2 linked regions of the Homo sapiens genome follow. The protein of the gene in region 1 interacts with the protein of each later gene in a biochemical or structural test. Each region holds a gene or a part of one and is shown on either strand. Other genes may lie near its edges.

Evidence for each region. Proteins that work in one complex are often made in the same cells at the same time.
Region 2: the proteins of PCYT1B (region 1) and ACTA2 are reported together in a solved structure, tested with the Homo sapiens proteins (one study listed by BioGRID).

The regions. Positions count from the first base shown.
Region 1 is NC_000023.11:24,643,633-24,651,689, forward strand, and holds the start of PCYT1B (choline-phosphate cytidylyltransferase B), read right to left. Parts: upstream 3,716-8,057; 5' UTR 3,474-3,715; coding exon 3,357-3,473; intron 1-3,356.
Region 2 is NC_000010.11:88,942,294-88,950,468, reverse strand, and holds part of ACTA2 (actin, aortic smooth muscle), read left to right. Parts: intron 1-1,515; 5' UTR 1,516-1,538; coding exon 1,539-1,667; intron 1,668-3,082; coding exon 3,083-3,211; intron 3,212-6,561; coding exon 6,562-6,672; intron 6,673-8,175. UniProt on the Homo sapiens protein: Actins are highly conserved proteins that are involved in various types of cell motility and are ubiquitously expressed in all eukaryotic cells.

The DNA of each region.
Region 1 (8,057 bases):
TAAGGCAGGTAGAGAAACTACAAGTTTTCCTGGCAGAAGAACTTCCCCTTGAAATATAATTCAATCATATCTGCAATATTATTATCAATTTGTTACTTACAGGGATCTAAAATATAGACTGCTTTAAAGTCTATTTATTCACTCACGTATGCCAGCTCCCCACTTCATTTCAGCAACTAGGAGAAGGAGCCTGCCCTCTGAAGGAGAATCCAAGTGTGGAGCTTCAATCCTAAACAGGCCCCCTGCAAATATTTCATACACTTTCCATAGTTAGTTAAGCAACTCAGTAGCCACACTCTGTTGATGGCTGTGGTGTCAGTGACCCACATACAATTTGGAGCTATATGCCTGGGTGCTGGGAGAAATGCAGAATTTATACAATTTGAAATATGAAGACACTAGCAAAGCTACAAGATCAACAGAAACTACTAAAAACCAGAGAAAGAAATGCTAATTTCATGTTTTCACTTGCTGCTCACTCTCTTCATCAACAAACTTTTTTATTAAGTAGTTAGCATGTGCCTTAGTTATTAAAGTAAGATCATTAGCAAAGGAAAGTTAGGCTATAAAGTATAAATCTAAATTTAGAATATAACCCTACAGTGATCAAAGTTAGCTAATAAGAGAGAAGGCAATTTGAAAATTTTAGTAGTGTTTTATAAATTGGTTGCAAGCCCCTGTTTAAACAGAGTCAAATTTCAGTAGCCCATGACAATGATGAACAACGTGGAAAATTTTGTATCATAAGTAAATCAAAGCAGGTGCTTCAACAGTTCAACTTATGTACATCTGTATCATACCTATGCATGTGCATGATACACACACACACACACACACACACACACACACACACACACGAAACCAGAACTGCCAAAAAGATGGGAAGGGAATGTATCTCACTTATGAGTATGTTATAGAAGAAAGATCTTCCACTTTTCCGGTGTAGAGCTCTGGGTTCAAATCCCAGCTCTGCCCCCTTCAAAGCAGTGTGACCCTTGGGCAAGTCACTTACCCTCTCTGAACCTCAGTTTCCTTATTTCTACAATGGGTGGGAGGTGAGGGTGTAGAGCACATTGCCAGCTTTGCGTGGTTCTTGTGAGTTACCACCTGGAATAAGCTGTCACGAGTGAAAGTGGAAAGTAACTTGGCCAGGTGCAGTGGGTCACACCTGTAATCCCAATACTTTGGAGGCCAAGGTGGGCGGATCACCTGAGGGCAGGAGTTCGAGACCAGCCTGGCCAACATGGCAAAACCCCGTCTCTACCAAAAATACAAAAAAATATTAGCCAGGCATGGTGCTGCCCACCTGTAATCCCAGCTACTCAGGAGGCTGAGGCAGGAGAATCGCTTGAACCTGGGAGGTGGAGGTTGTGGTGAGCCAAGATCAGGCCACTGCACTCTAGCCTGGAGGACATAGTGAGACTCCATCTTAAAAAAACAAGAAAGTAACTTGAACTTTCTTCTTTCCCTTAATTTTCTCTGCCCATCTCCCTCAGGCAGAAGCAATCAAGAAGCAGAATAGCTAAGAGGTAAAAATGGAAGGAAAAATAGTAGGCAAAAGAGACTGAAATGATGCACAAACTGGAGCTGGATGCCGCCTTTCTCTCCTCTGCCCTTTACCTCTGTCAGGAAGGTATGTGATGCAAATTTGAAGATTGTGGTTACTTTAAAAAATATATTTTTGGGTAAGCATGGGCACAAATATATATACATATGTGTGTATATATGTATATATGTGTGTATATACATATATATATATACACACATATATATATTGGTCCAGTGCTGTGGCACAAGCCTGTAATCCCAGCTACTTGGGAGGCTGAGGCAGGAGGATCACTTGAGTCCAGGAGTTCAAGTTTGAGGCCAGCCTGGAAAACAGAGTGAGTCTCTCTCTCTATTTATGTGTATATATGTATATGTGCATATGATAATCTTGTAATATGCTTTTAGTGGTCATTTTCCTTTATGCTAAACCATAAGTTGTTTAGTGACTCAAAGGAATCCCTTAGTAACAAACTTATTGGGATGGTTTGTATCTCATGAGAACATAGACACTGCACTGTGTATGTCATTCAGTAAGTGGCTAAAGTGCTAGGGCACAGTTACTATTAAACTGCCCTAAGAGAAAACATTTTTAAAAATAGAAGCATAGGGGAAAAAAGCCCACAGGGCTCTAATATAACTTCCTCTGTATTTGTGCTTTTTAGGAAGTTGTTCTAAGCCTCCTTTGAACCCTTATTAACTCTTATTAAGAAATAACAGTTTTATGATGGGTTGGCCTTCTCATCTGCGAGCCCTAATTTTGCAGGTTCACAGAAAATGCTACATCACAAAATCCTTTTTTAAAAAACTCTTCCCAGGGTCAAACTCCACAGCCAATCAAAATATTCCACCTTTTAACTTGAGGGAAATCGCTAAAGGAAAGGATAGCTTTAACTAGTGTGTCTTTTGGATTGGGGGACTCAAAGAGAGGTCTCCCCAAGTTCCACAAGACTTCGGACCACAGAAAACCCACCACCCATGCGTGTTTTTGATTCCTTGAGGACACATGCTGAGGTGGTTGGGAACGAAGTTTCACATCTACCTAAAAGATCATGACCAGGGATAGAGAGACGACCAAATTTGGGAGAGCAGTTACGGTGCAGTTACGGAGGCGGAAGGACGCTCTCAGTACCCCGTTTCCACACTTTCATTCTTAAAGGCATGCAACCCCTTTCTAAATAAATGTAGCTCCCCAGGTTTCCACTACCTGAAGAGAAACCCTCACAGCACACTCTGGAAATGTTTTACAATTCGTTTTAAATGCGTATTATTTCTAACTAAATCATTGAGGGACTCCTATGTATTTATTTATTTATTTATTTTGAACATTTTCAAACGGATGGGGAAGTTTTGCTTCCATGTTTCCATTTTTTTCCCCCCAAATTGGCATTAGGCACCAAAATCAGTTGAGGAACGAAGCATTCCTTAGCTAGAATTTAAAACTTAACAAGGGACTCTTCCCGAGCTTGGTAAAGAGAATACCATTTTAAAATTGCACTGTAGGATTTTTTTACCTTCAGACAAGAACACACCTAAAAGGAAAAAGGCCCTCCCCTCCTCCCGAAGCACAAAAACACAGCATATCCCAAGCAGCCCGTTTCCTACCCAGCCAATACAATAACGCTTTGTAAACTGAGAGCAGCGCCCGGTATAGAAGCTAAGTATAAACAGCTGAGAAGGATTAGGCGGTAGCGCTCTTCTCATTTACATGAAAATCCTCTAAGCATCGTTTTCCTCGCTGGCTGCGGGCGCATAAGGAACTCTTTTATGCCATAGCCACGCATACATTTCCATCCTTTGTCTTTACTTACCAGTCGAGGCTGTGGGCATGTGTGCTCTATTTCCTCCATGGTTTCTGAGGGAGGCTCATTGGAAAGGGATTTTGGGATACCTGTTTCTGACTCAGCATCAGTGGTAACTACTGGCATGGCCAGTGAATGCTCCCTCTAGCTCTACACCCTCAGAGAGTCTCCTCCCAGGCAGAGAATGTTTTCTTTGTCACGTATTTTTCTCCCCTCTACCCTCCACCCATCCCCCCGCTTCTTCTCCCCTTCTTTCTGTCTTCCCTAGGGGAAGTAAAGAGGTTACCCCCCGCCCCTCTCTCTCTCTCTCTCTCCCAGAAGCCAAGAGGCAAGGCCTCAGTTTATCACTATAACAACCAGACGACACTGAAGCGGCTGGTGCGGGATACAGTATCTCATTTGCATAGAGCGCGCTGGTTGGCTACTGTCATCATAGTACCACTCCGCCGGGAAGCGGCCGGGCCCCATTGGCTAGCCCTCCGTACCCACGGGCCCGAACTTGCTGCTTTTGTTTCTTCTGTTTAATTCAGTTGCAAAGGTCTCCGTCCTCTCTGGGCACGGGACCCGGGCTGCGCCACCCAGATAACATAAAACCGCTTCCTGAGGGGCCTAGGACGCCTTGAGAAACAACATAGCAGACCTCCACTAATAAAGGACCATGTCCCTGGGATGAGCTAGTGCATGATGTGCTGTAGTCAGGATATTTGCCAAATAGGAGTCACCCTGAAGACAAAGCCACTTTTGAGCCCAAATTCATTGTGCTAATTGCCAGTGGAGGGCCCCTCCGGGCATTCACTATGGGCACCTGAGTGTTCGACCCCTGGACTTCATGCAACGTGAACCCTGGCAGATCCCCTCGTGGCCTGGTGTAGCCCTGGAGCCCTCCCCTGGGGCTGCCCTAGGGGGAACTTTGAAGGAGGTAGATTGTCTTTAACAGCCTGCCTCCTACTCCTGGCTGCCCTTTCGCAGTTGCTTCCTCTGTCAGCCACTCTTCCCCTTCCCCAGCTATTCAAAGTTTCCTCAAGAAGTCTTGCTGTTGTGTGCCTTTCAATACACTGTTCCATGCACTGCTCTATTTTCTCTTGGTTCCTACTTTACCAGTCGTGGGTCCCATTTCCGAAGTACCCTGCTCTCAGCCAAATGCTCATGGCAATCAGAGATGGAATGTTAACGATCAGGTGCTTTAATGTCTACATTATCTAGGGACATTCACATTTTAAGAGGAGCATTCTGAAGACACACATCCAAAGAACTTACCAAGGTATTCATTGTGAATTGTCACTTTTAATATTAATAAAAAATCATGATGATCCCTGGCATTTATTAAGCACAAGCACGGTGCTAAGTACTTTACCTAGTTCTTGTTTAATCTTTGTGAGAACCCAAAGAGGTAGATCCTATTGTTATCCTCATTTTACAGGTATTCACATTCACAAAATTCTAAAATAATGCAGCTGGGATTTGAAGGAATTTTTTTTTTTTTTTTTTTTTTTTTTGCGAAGGGCGAGGTGGTGGGGGCGGGCGCGTAGGGACCAGGGATGCAGCAGGTGTAGTAAGAAAAGGATCTAGGCAGGAGTCCTCTTAGGACAAGTCCCTGGGCTTCTACATCTTTCATTTTTATCTACAGTAGTGGTTTTCATTCAAGTGTGGTCTGGGACCAGCAGCACCAACATCAGCATCACCAGGGAACTTGTTAGAAATGCGAATTATTGGCCCCCTGCCAGACCCCGGACCTGATTCAGTAAGTCTGGGGTGGGGTCAGAATTTGCTTTTCTAGAGAGTTTCTGGGTGTTGTTAATGCTGCAGGTCTGGGAACTATACTTTGAGAATCAGTAGCCCAAAGGATGGGATAAAAATACCGGGCTTGCCTCCATCACAGAAAGGAGATCAAATGAGATATCATGTCATTGCACTTTTTGAATTAGAACGTGCTATGCTAATATAAGGGGACATTATTTTTATTACTCCTCAATAAGCAAAGAGGGCTAGTCCTAAAAGAAGAAGAAAATGGATTCTGTAGCAGAGAATTACAGTTTGACAGTTTTAGATGCTGGCCCTTTAAGTCAGAATAACATCACTTAAGAGTATTATGACCTATACAGGACAGAACTCCAGTGTTGTGAGAATTCCAGTGATGCTTCCTACCCTATTTGCCCTCCTGGAAGCACAAAACACTTCCAGCAGCAGGTTTAACTCTACCAGCTCATCACCTGGAAGAGCCAAGCCCTGTGTTACATTTAGGAGCCCTTTTCCTACGTGTACTGGGTGACGTGCAAATGACATGGTTATTCTAATCTCAATATATGTATTTTTGCCTTAGAGCAGTGGTTCTCAAAGTGTACTTCTCCAAGAAGTGCAGCAGCAGCCCTGGTCACTTGTCAGAAATTCTGGATCCCCACCCCAGACCTACTGAATCAGAAATTCTGGCTTCCCACTCCAGACCTACTGAATCAAAACCTCCTGGTTTGGGAGGCATTCTGACCCACGCTAAAGTTTACAAACCACTACCTTAGAGTCACTGTTCACATTGGAAAGCACCTAAACCCCACTGTATTCTTGGCCACTGAGCCACCCCTTGGTTCCTAATTGGTCACCTAATTCTCTCTCCAGAATGAGAGGTTCACCTGTTCACCTGCTCATTTTAAAGAGTTCTGATGTCTAGCTGAGTCCTTGTGAACTCTTGTCCAAGAGCCTAGGCCATTCCTTTAGACTCCCAATATCTTCTGTCTCCCTTCCTCACCTTCTTCTCCTCCTAATCCTCCCCTGTCCCATTGAACCAAGATACTGCCTTTGCCTAGGATATCTTCATTGTATTACCCACATCAAATCCTTAGCTTTCAGTGCTACTTTGTGCTAAGTCCGTCACACCTGACACTTACTCATCCCAAGTCCTTGAACTTTGAAATTTAGACTTCTGTCTAACTGCCCTGAGGGTCAGCTCTATAACTAATTCCATTCCCACTAATTCTGCTCCAGCCTAGTCCTGGCTTCTTCCTGCTCCTCTCCCCACAGTCCTGTGATTGAATCTCAGCATGTCTTGCAGTCTTAATGGCAGAAATAGGCTCTTTCAGGCACCACTCTGAGAGGAGTCCTTAACAGATCCACCCACTTTGGAGACCAGTCCTGGCAGCTGCTACAACCTGACTCAGAAACTTCTTGATAATACTTGAGTGAGTTATTTTAACTTGGGGGCATTGTAATGCTATCAAGACAATTAGCTAAGAATGATCAGTTAATTCCACACTACAGAGCTAAATATTCCATAAGGGTTATGAAGGGGATGACTATGAAGGGATAGCAGGAGAGAGTTTATTGGGGTAATGGAATTATTATGTAGCTTTTTTTTTTTTTTTTTTTTTCAGACAGGATCTTACTCTGTTGCCAGGCTGGAATGCAGTGGTGCAATCTCAGCTCACTGCAACCTCTGTCTCCCAGGCTCAAGCGATCCTCCCACCTGAGCCTCCCAAGTATCTGGGACCACAGGTGTATGCCACCACTCCTGTCTAATCTTTCTATATTTTTGGTAGAGACAGGGTTTCACTGTGTTGCCCAGGCTGGTCTGGAACTTCTGGCCTCAAGTGATTCACCTTCCTCGGCCTCCCAAAGTGCTAGGATTATAGGCGTGAGCCACTGTGGCCGTCCAAGAATCATTATGTATCTTGATTATGGTAATGATTTCAAAAAATCCATGCATGTGTTAACTTCATTAGAAATTCCATAGAGGATATTTGTCAGTATATGCTAACAGCCTTTAGAATATTCATACCCTTTGACCTAGGGATTCCACTTGGTAATTTATCCCAAAAGAAATAGAGAAGCACACAAATAATTATGTACAAAGATGCTTAATGCAGAATTATTTATAAAAGGCAAAAAAGATACAACTTACAGCAATAGTAGGAATAGTTCAAATAAAAATAAGTCCATATAATATAGTATTGTACACTCACTAAGAGTCATGTTTTTGAAGAAATTCTAATGTTATGGGCACGTGTTAGCATTATAGTGTTAGAAAAGCAGGCTGCAAAATGTGATTCCAAAAACATGAGCCCAATTATGTCATATGTACATGCACAGAAAAAAGCATTGGAAGGAAATATATCAAGATGCTAAAAGTGAAATCTTTAAACTGTGGGGTTATGGAAGATTTTTGTTTTACTTTAAAACAAATTTTTCTGCCTTTAACAAATATTCAAGGCTGGGCGCGGTGGCTCACGCCTGTAATCCCAGCACTTTGGGAGGCTGAGGTGGGTGGATCATGAGGTCAAGAGATCGAGACCATCCTGGCCAAACAGTGAAACCCCGTCTATTTTAAAAATATAAAAATTAGCTGGGCGTGTTGGCAGGAATCTGTAGTCCCAGCTACTCTGGAGGCTGAGGCAGGAGAATCGCTTGAACCTCGGAGGCGGAGGTTGCAGTGAGCCGAGATCACGCCATTGCACTCCAGCCTGGGCAACAGAGCGAGATGCCATCTCAAAAAAAAAAAAAAAAAAATATATATATATATATATATATATATATATATATATATATATTCAAAAATGAGCATATATTATTCTTTTTTTTTTTGAGACAGGGTCTCACTCTGTTGCCCAGACTGGAGTGCAGTCACGTGATCACAGCAGCCTCGACCTCCCAGACTCAGGTGATCCTCCCACCTCAGCCTTCCAGGTAGCTGGGACTACAGGACACGCAACCACGCCTGGCTAA
Region 2 (8,175 bases), on another chromosome or scaffold:
GCCTTTGGCAAGATGCAGGTTTGATTTTGTGGGAATGTTTTGGCAGAACTCCAACTCTGTAATAGCTATTTTATTTCCCTACTTCTCAGATGTTTCCTTAAAAGAACTGCCTTTTTTATATGGATTTGGAGGTGCAATCAGTTAACCCATTTAGAAGAAGAAATTTTCTCAATTTGAAATCCTAATTGAGATCTCAATGCCAGGCAGATAACTCTGGGTGTCCTTCTCTTAACGGAACATTTCGACCTAATTGTGATTAGAAAAGTGGAAGAGGTCTTGAACTGGAAGCCAAGGGGTGGCTAAAGAGTACCTGATGTCTGGCTGGAGCTCTGCCTCTAATGCCCTGTGTGCCCTTGAGCAATCACTTCCTGATTTTCTTATTTGTGAAAATGAGAGCATTGGATGAAAATGTCCTCTAATATGCCTTCAATTTCTCAAATTTGTAAGTTGATAGGCTGCTCCAGCCTTTCTAATTTTATGAAAGGATCCAAGTATAAGATCCAAGTATAAAATGGGTTATTTAAAATTTTGTTTTATTACCAAAGAAATACACATTCAATATAGAAAATTAAAAAAATATGACAGAACCATGGGAAAATAATTAAAAACACCTATAAAACCCACCACTTCATAATAACCTCAGTCAACATCTTGGTAAATATGATTAATCTTTTTGCAATGCATAAAAAATACATTTTTAATGAGATTTACAATGTTACTTTTTCTAACCTATTACTCTTACATAAGAACTACCTTTTGCTTATCCTCTTACTCTACCTTTTTAATGGCAGTAAAGTATTCTACCATATGATATATAATCCATCAGGCTCACCCTCACTTGTTGGACTGTTAGCTTAACAGTGACTTTTATTAACGGTGGATAATTGCAGCCCCTAAAATTTAAAGCACCTTCTCAGAAAATTTTATTTCAAAGCTTCTCTGAGGGTAAAGTAAAAGTCCTCATGATTCAAAAAGATTTTTCCATTAAACACTTGACCATTTTAACATTTCTAAATTTTTACATGCTGCCTGTCCCTCAAAAATCTAGCTTTTTGAAAAAATTTCAAAAAGGTATAGCATATCTAGAAAAATGTGCATTTGGGTTGATACAGACAGGAAAATCTAGATGCTTCTTTAACATAAGGTAGGCAACTTGTCTCTGCAAAGATCTGGTCTCAGACTCTGGATTTCCCATCTGTGCTCTGCAGTTTGTTTATTCATTCACTGGCTCTATCCACCTTTAAAGTGCTCACGAGAACACATGATATGCCGGTCACTACACTAAGGTTGTATCAACATAGAAGTCAGAGTTTCAGAAGTCAGAGTTTCAGCTTACTGAAAGCTTATAGTGTAACTAAAGTACTTCCAGATACATGCTATATTAGATAAGGGTCAGAGGATAGCACTAGGACACAGAGGAGGGCCCCCAAACCCAGCCTTGGAGGTGGGAGTTGTCAGGTAAGTGCCACAAATGCCCAATTACAGCTGAGGCTGCTTCCTCCCTGTTTTCTATAGAATCCTGTGAAGCAGCTCCAGCTATGTGTGAAGAAGAGGACAGCACTGCCTTGGTGTGTGACAATGGCTCTGGGCTCTGTAAGGCCGGCTTTGCTGGGGACGATGCTCCCAGGGCTGTTTTCCCATCCATTGTGGGACGTCCCAGACATCAGGTGAGGAAAATTATGATTGGAACATAACAGGACACAGATTAGGTTCCTCTGTGTTCATGTTTATCCCCAGATTGTCTATCTCTTTCTGCCCAGAAGTTATGTAACCTTGTTACAAATAGACCTCTAATGATTAAGGTCCAGGAGTAAATGCCAATTTCACATATAATGTAGACAGATTATCTGATGGGCATCTATCAGATACAAAGTCTGCCCCTTTTTCATGTCCTTTTTGTCTAAATATAGTCATTATCATCATCATCATCATCATCAAATCATTTCATCACCATCAGAAATGCTTATACATTATCCTGATGTATACCAAAGCTACTGTTTGGAAAGAAACTAAAATAAAAGTCCAGGTCACTTAACCATACAGGGCTGATGTTAGATGAAAGCAAGCATCGATACCAAATGCAATTTTACATAATATTACCTGTCAACAAAATATATTTGGACAGCCGCATGGTAATTTTACACATTATGTGTAAACAAAGTATTGGTGGCATCACATGGTAAAAACTCAGTAATTTCACCTCAGAAATTCTTCTTCACATCAGAAATGTAGTTTGTGCATTGAGGCTATCTGATTGATGTTTATGCCTCTCTGCTTGGGATATATTCATGAGAATAAATAATAGAAACCTCTCCCAATGAATGCAGTCTGTCTGAATTCATTGATCTTTATGCAGTGGAGATATTCTGCACAAGCCGCTATTTTATGGGTCCATAGTAGCCATGGCTGTTTTGTAGTTCTAAAATAGTCACTGCAGTGCAATTTAAAATCTAGTAACAATAATTTTTTAAGAACTTCACCTTAATGATTTTTTTTAAATGCAGCTGACTAATTTAGGCAAATGTCTTAACAGTTGATTGGTATGAACTTATCCATTAGAAATCAAGCCTCAAGTGGTTATTTGTAGATGCAATGCTTTTGCTTATAATAGTTAGAAAATAATGCTCATATTCTTTTGGGTAGGTGATGACTTTAAAAGTACAGTTTAAAGGATTTATAAGACACAAAATGCCATTTAACAAATATGTAAAATTGTATACATTCTTTCAACAAATAATTATTGAGTGCCACATATGTGCCATGCAATTTGCTATAGTGATGGACAAGACAGACATGATCTCTGCCCTAAAAAAGCTCATCAAGGAACATAGGAGATAAAAATACAAAGTAAAGTTGACTTTCCCCCAACATCTCCTGTTATTTGGAGGCAATTCAGGTCTTTTTCCAATCAACTGCAGAATTTTGCTTAAGAGCATAGTGGCAATGAGACTCAATATGTTTATTGTTGCTGATAATCAGAAGAGGAACTTCCCATCTCAATGACTTAACCTTTTGTGGCTTGGCTGTAATTGATTCACAAGTTTTGGGAGATGCTGACTCATAATGTGTTGAACCTTTTTAGGGGGTGATGGTGGGAATGGGACAAAAAGACAGCTACGTGGGTGACGAAGCACAGAGCAAAAGAGGAATCCTGACCCTGAAGTACCCGATAGAACATGGCATCATCACCAACTGGGACGACATGGAAAAGGTATGGGAGGTTTGCTGCAGCTTGGGCCCTCAGGATGCATAATCCCTGTGTTCTCTGATACAGAACACCACACTACTGCTGGGGAAATAACTGGCTCACATTGCTCAACTGTACTTTTACTTGTTAATGTTCATTCTGGGTTATTACCCATTGAAAAAAAAATCCTTGTAGCCATAAAAAATGATGAGTTCATGTCCTTTGTAGGGACATGGATGAAGCTGGAAACCATCATCCTCAGCAAACTGTCGCAAGGACAAAAAACCAAACACCGCATGTTCTCACTCATAGGTGGGAATTGAACAACGAGAACACATGGACACAGGAAGGGGAACATCACACACCGGGGACTGTTGTGGGGTGGGGGGAGGGGGAGGAATAGCATTAGGAGATATACCTAATGTAAATGACGAGTTAATGGGTGCAGCACACCAACATGGCACATGTATACATATGTAACAAACCTGCACGTTGTGCACATGTACCCTAAAACTTAAAGTATAATAATAATAAAATTTAAAAAAAAAAGAAAAAAAAATCCTAAAATGTTTCTTTAAAAAAAAATCCCTTGCCAGGCATGGTTGCTCACACGTGTAATCCCAACACTTTGGGAGGCCAAGGTGGGAGGATCGCTTGGCCCAGGAGTTTGAGACCAGGCTGGGTAACATAGTAAGATCCTGTCTCTACAAAAAATAAATGAAATTAGCCAGGCATGGTGGCACACACCTCAGTCCCAGCTACTTGAAAGATTGAGGTGGGAGGATCACTTGAGCCTGGGATATGGAGGCTGCAGTGGGCCAAGATCCTACTCCAGCCTAGGTGACAGAGTGAGATCCTATCTCAAAAAAAAGAAGAAAAAAATCCTGCAGGGCACAGTGACTCACACCTGTAATCTCAGCACTGGATCACTTGAGGCCAGGAGTTTGAGACCAGCCTGAGCAACATAGCAAAACCCTGTTTCTACTGAAAAAAAAAAAAAAAAAAAGGTTTAATTAACAGTGTGTGGTGGCATGCAACTGTAGTCCCAGCTACTCAGGAGGCTGAGGTGGTAGCATCATTCGAGCCCAGGAGTTCGAAGCTGCAGTGAGCTGATCATACCATCAGCTGTTGCACTCCAGCCTGGGCAACAGAGCAAGACTCTGTCTCTAAAGAAAAGGAAAAAAATGTCCTTGCCTATTAGGTTTTATTAACTAATTAAAGGATGATAGTTCTGTAGATGAGAAGAGTAGCCCTTTGCCACTGCAGGGAATTAATCATCTGTTGCTCACGTCAACTCTGTTGCCCTCCTAGGACAAGCAGTGCATGAGCAGCAGCTCAGAGAATGAAAACCCTCCTTTCATTTTCATCAGGGGCTGCATGGTTATCCCTCTCAGTGCAATATAGCTAAAGGGGCTTGAAATGCTGGGAGTAGTCTTAAACAGCCCATTCTTGAAAGGTTTTCATTAACTCACTCTAAACATCTAAATTAAAAATGTTTTTGTTTTCACTATAGTAAACAGGAGTGTAACATTGCAGGTTTGGTACATTTCTGAATGCCTCTCCACACACTGAAGCACAAGAGCCACTGAAAAAAGCTATATGATAAATATTTTAAAAATTATTTATCTGTGTTGCATTACATGAGGCCTTATCTCCCAGACACTTAATAAAAGAGCTAATGAGAAGAAGAGCTAAATTCTAAGATTTTGATGTTTGGTCATTAAACATTACAGACACCAGTGATCAGAGAAAAAAACAGAAGAAATAATGAGAAAGTGACATAAAAAATTTTAAATGCAGCAAGATATATCAGAATCACGATATCTGGCCTTTTATTTATCTATCGGCTCACTACTACTACTACGCACACAATTTATCACTTAAAAGAAAAATACATAATGTTGTTAGAATTTATCAGCAGTAATGCTCCAAGCTCTATCTTTCTACAAAAATTTCATATCAGTAGGTTTGCTTGAGGATTCTAGATTTGGTAAGATTGCAGTTTGCACAGAGAAAAAGATATCAATATCAATAGGAAAATATTCTTTTAGAATTTCTCCATGGAGCTGACAACATCTTAGAATGTATCGTCCTAGACAGAGACTATTGGAAGAAAAAACTTTCCTTATTTCTAAAATTTAAATTCAAAGTATCTTCTGGTGGGGACGAAGAGAGAGAGAGGAGAAAGGTTGCTTGCTGTGACTGGCAGGATTTTTTGAGCAGTCTGCTGCTTTCACTCCACTAAAGAAACAAAACTTTCAGAAGTTTCATTTCCCTTCTATAAACCACAAATCCAAAACAAAAGAAAGTGGAATAAGATAGTCTTTAAAGCTAATCTTGGTTTTGCTAATTTGTAAGCTTTCACCAGCAGTTCTTGTTTTGCTCTGTTTTGATTTTGAGTGAATCTCATATTCCTGGCTCTGGTGGAGAATTTTCGTGCTTTTAAAGATTAATTAATTTAGTCCTTTTTGCAATGGTTTGTTCTTTTCGGCATCTAGGAATTAAAGAAAGTGCTCAACCATAAATAAATGTAGTTATGTCCAAAGTACCTTCACATAGACACACTATACACAGGCGTGGGCCTTTTGGAAACACCTGAAGGCCAAATGTCTGACTGTGAGTGGAAGATCCAGAGTGTGCTGATAGAGGAAGCTTTTCTCATCCCTCGAGAGCAAAGAGGGTGATGGAGGCAAGAGTCAGAGAGCCCTGTTCTCTTCTTCATGTACACTGCAAAGGGCAACTTCTCTAGAAGCATTAAAAGTGTCAATTAGGTTTTCAAGTAAGCGTCATTTATTCATATATACATTCATTTGTCTTTTTATTTACAAAATTAAATCATTTTCCCATGAACATTAAAATGGGAAGAGAGAACAAAGAAAATAGAGTTGAATAATAATAACATTGATTCTGGACCAGACACTGGGCTGGACAATAACTCGAGGGTTACCTTATTTATTTACACAAAGACCCGATGAGGTACACACTAATTATTTTCATCTCCCTATTACCAATCATGAGACTGAAGCTGAGAAGGGTTAAAAACTTGCCTAAGCTCACACAACTAAGAAGTGTCCGAGCTGGGCTTTGAACCCAAGGTTTGATCAAGGGTTGTGCCCTTAACTGCCATACCATCCTGCCTCACAGATCTGGGTTAGGGATTCTGCTCAGTCACTTAGTAGATGTGAATCCTTTGGGAAGGTACTTACACACTTTGAGCTTCAGTCTCTGCATCTATAAAACCATGGACACATGCATGAGTACTTGTAGCATTTCCTTTGGTCTTGGTTTCAAGTAGCTTCTGGTCCCTTTTTGGGAAATGCAGGACCTCATGACAGCACATCATTGTGTTTCTCCTCTGTCCCCCAACTCACTAGATCTGGCACCACTCTTTCTACAATGAGCTTCGTGTTGCCCCTGAAGAGCATCCCACCCTGCTCACGGAGGCACCCCTGAACCCCAAGGCCAACCGGGAGAAAATGACTCAAGTAAGTATGCTACCCCAGCACACAACACTGTGGGGTCTGGGGAAACTTCTGTTAGAAGGAGGCTATGCAGCACAGCAGAGAGAAGGCCGGAGCTAGGAGTCCACCAACAGACTAACAGCCTTCAGTGAACTCAGGGATCCCAAAGGACAGGAACAGCTTGAAAGTACTTGCATCCTTCCTGCAGGGACCAGCCCTTTGCCTCCAAAAGCAATAGGAAATTTAAAAGATTTCACTGAGAAGGGGCCACGTTTAAGTTATAATGTCTAAGGAGAAGTCACTTCAAAATGCAGCATCACATACAATAGGAATTTGGGTTCCAGAGTCAGACATATCTAGGTTTGAAAACTGGATCTGCCACTTATCAGTTATGTGACCTTAAAGAACTCCGTTAATTTCTCAGAGCCTCAGTTTCCTTGTCTATAAGTTGGGAGTAATATTAATACTATCATTTTTCCAAGGATTGATGTGAACATTAATGAGGTGAAATGACAGATGTGTATCATGGTTCCTAATAAACATCCAAAATATAGTACTTACTATTGTCATTATTATTACTTGTTTGAAGCTAAAGACCTCACAATAGAATCCCATCCAGCCCACCAGACAGAGCTCTGAGTTTTCTAGTTTGGAAGAGCTATTAAATAACAACGTCTAGTGTCAATTCTATACTTGTTATGGTCAAGTACTGGGCTCAGCATTTTACATTCATTGTCTCTTTAAGTTCTAGCAATGTGAAGCAGGAACTATGATTATATTGACTACATAAATGAAGAAATTGAGGCTCAGATACATTAAGTAATTCTCCCAGGGTCACACAGCTAGAACTGGCAAAGCCTGGGATTGATCCACGATCTTCCAGCATTGAAGAATCATAAATGTAAATAACTGCAAGGCCTTTTCCTCAGAAGAGCTCCTGGTGCTTGCACCAACCCACTAGCACTTGTTCTCTACAGGGGAACATCTGTGGGCCTGGGAATCACTGCACGTCGCAAGAGATGTTGCTTCTGATGAATTATTGTTCCTGTCAGTGGTGTGAAGGCAAAAAAAAAAAAATGGTTGGAAATTATGGCTTGCTAGCAAATGATGTCAGACATTCTGGTTAATAGAGTAGGAAGGGTCTTACAGATGGAGAAATGAAGACCCACGGACATCTCCTGATGCACAAACTTCTCACAAGTGACCTGGAGGGGCTTGGTTCTAATCTTGTCCCTGGACTGCACCAACTGGGGCACTGACATTCTATGTGGTCCTCTATTACCATTGGGCTGGTCCTGTCTTCCAGGAACCAGGGCCTCTCCCACTGCAACCAGAATGGCCTCAGATTCTAGGGTTAGCATTGACCCAGTAACTACATAAAAAAGTGGAATAGATTAAATAGAACCTCAGACAAATCACAGAAATGGGGCTAAACCTAGCCAGCCTGAGCTTCAGATTTAAAAGTTCTCTTTCTTTATACCAGGGAAATCAAAACCTGGATGTTGTCTTCTCTTTTTCTTCTGGCTT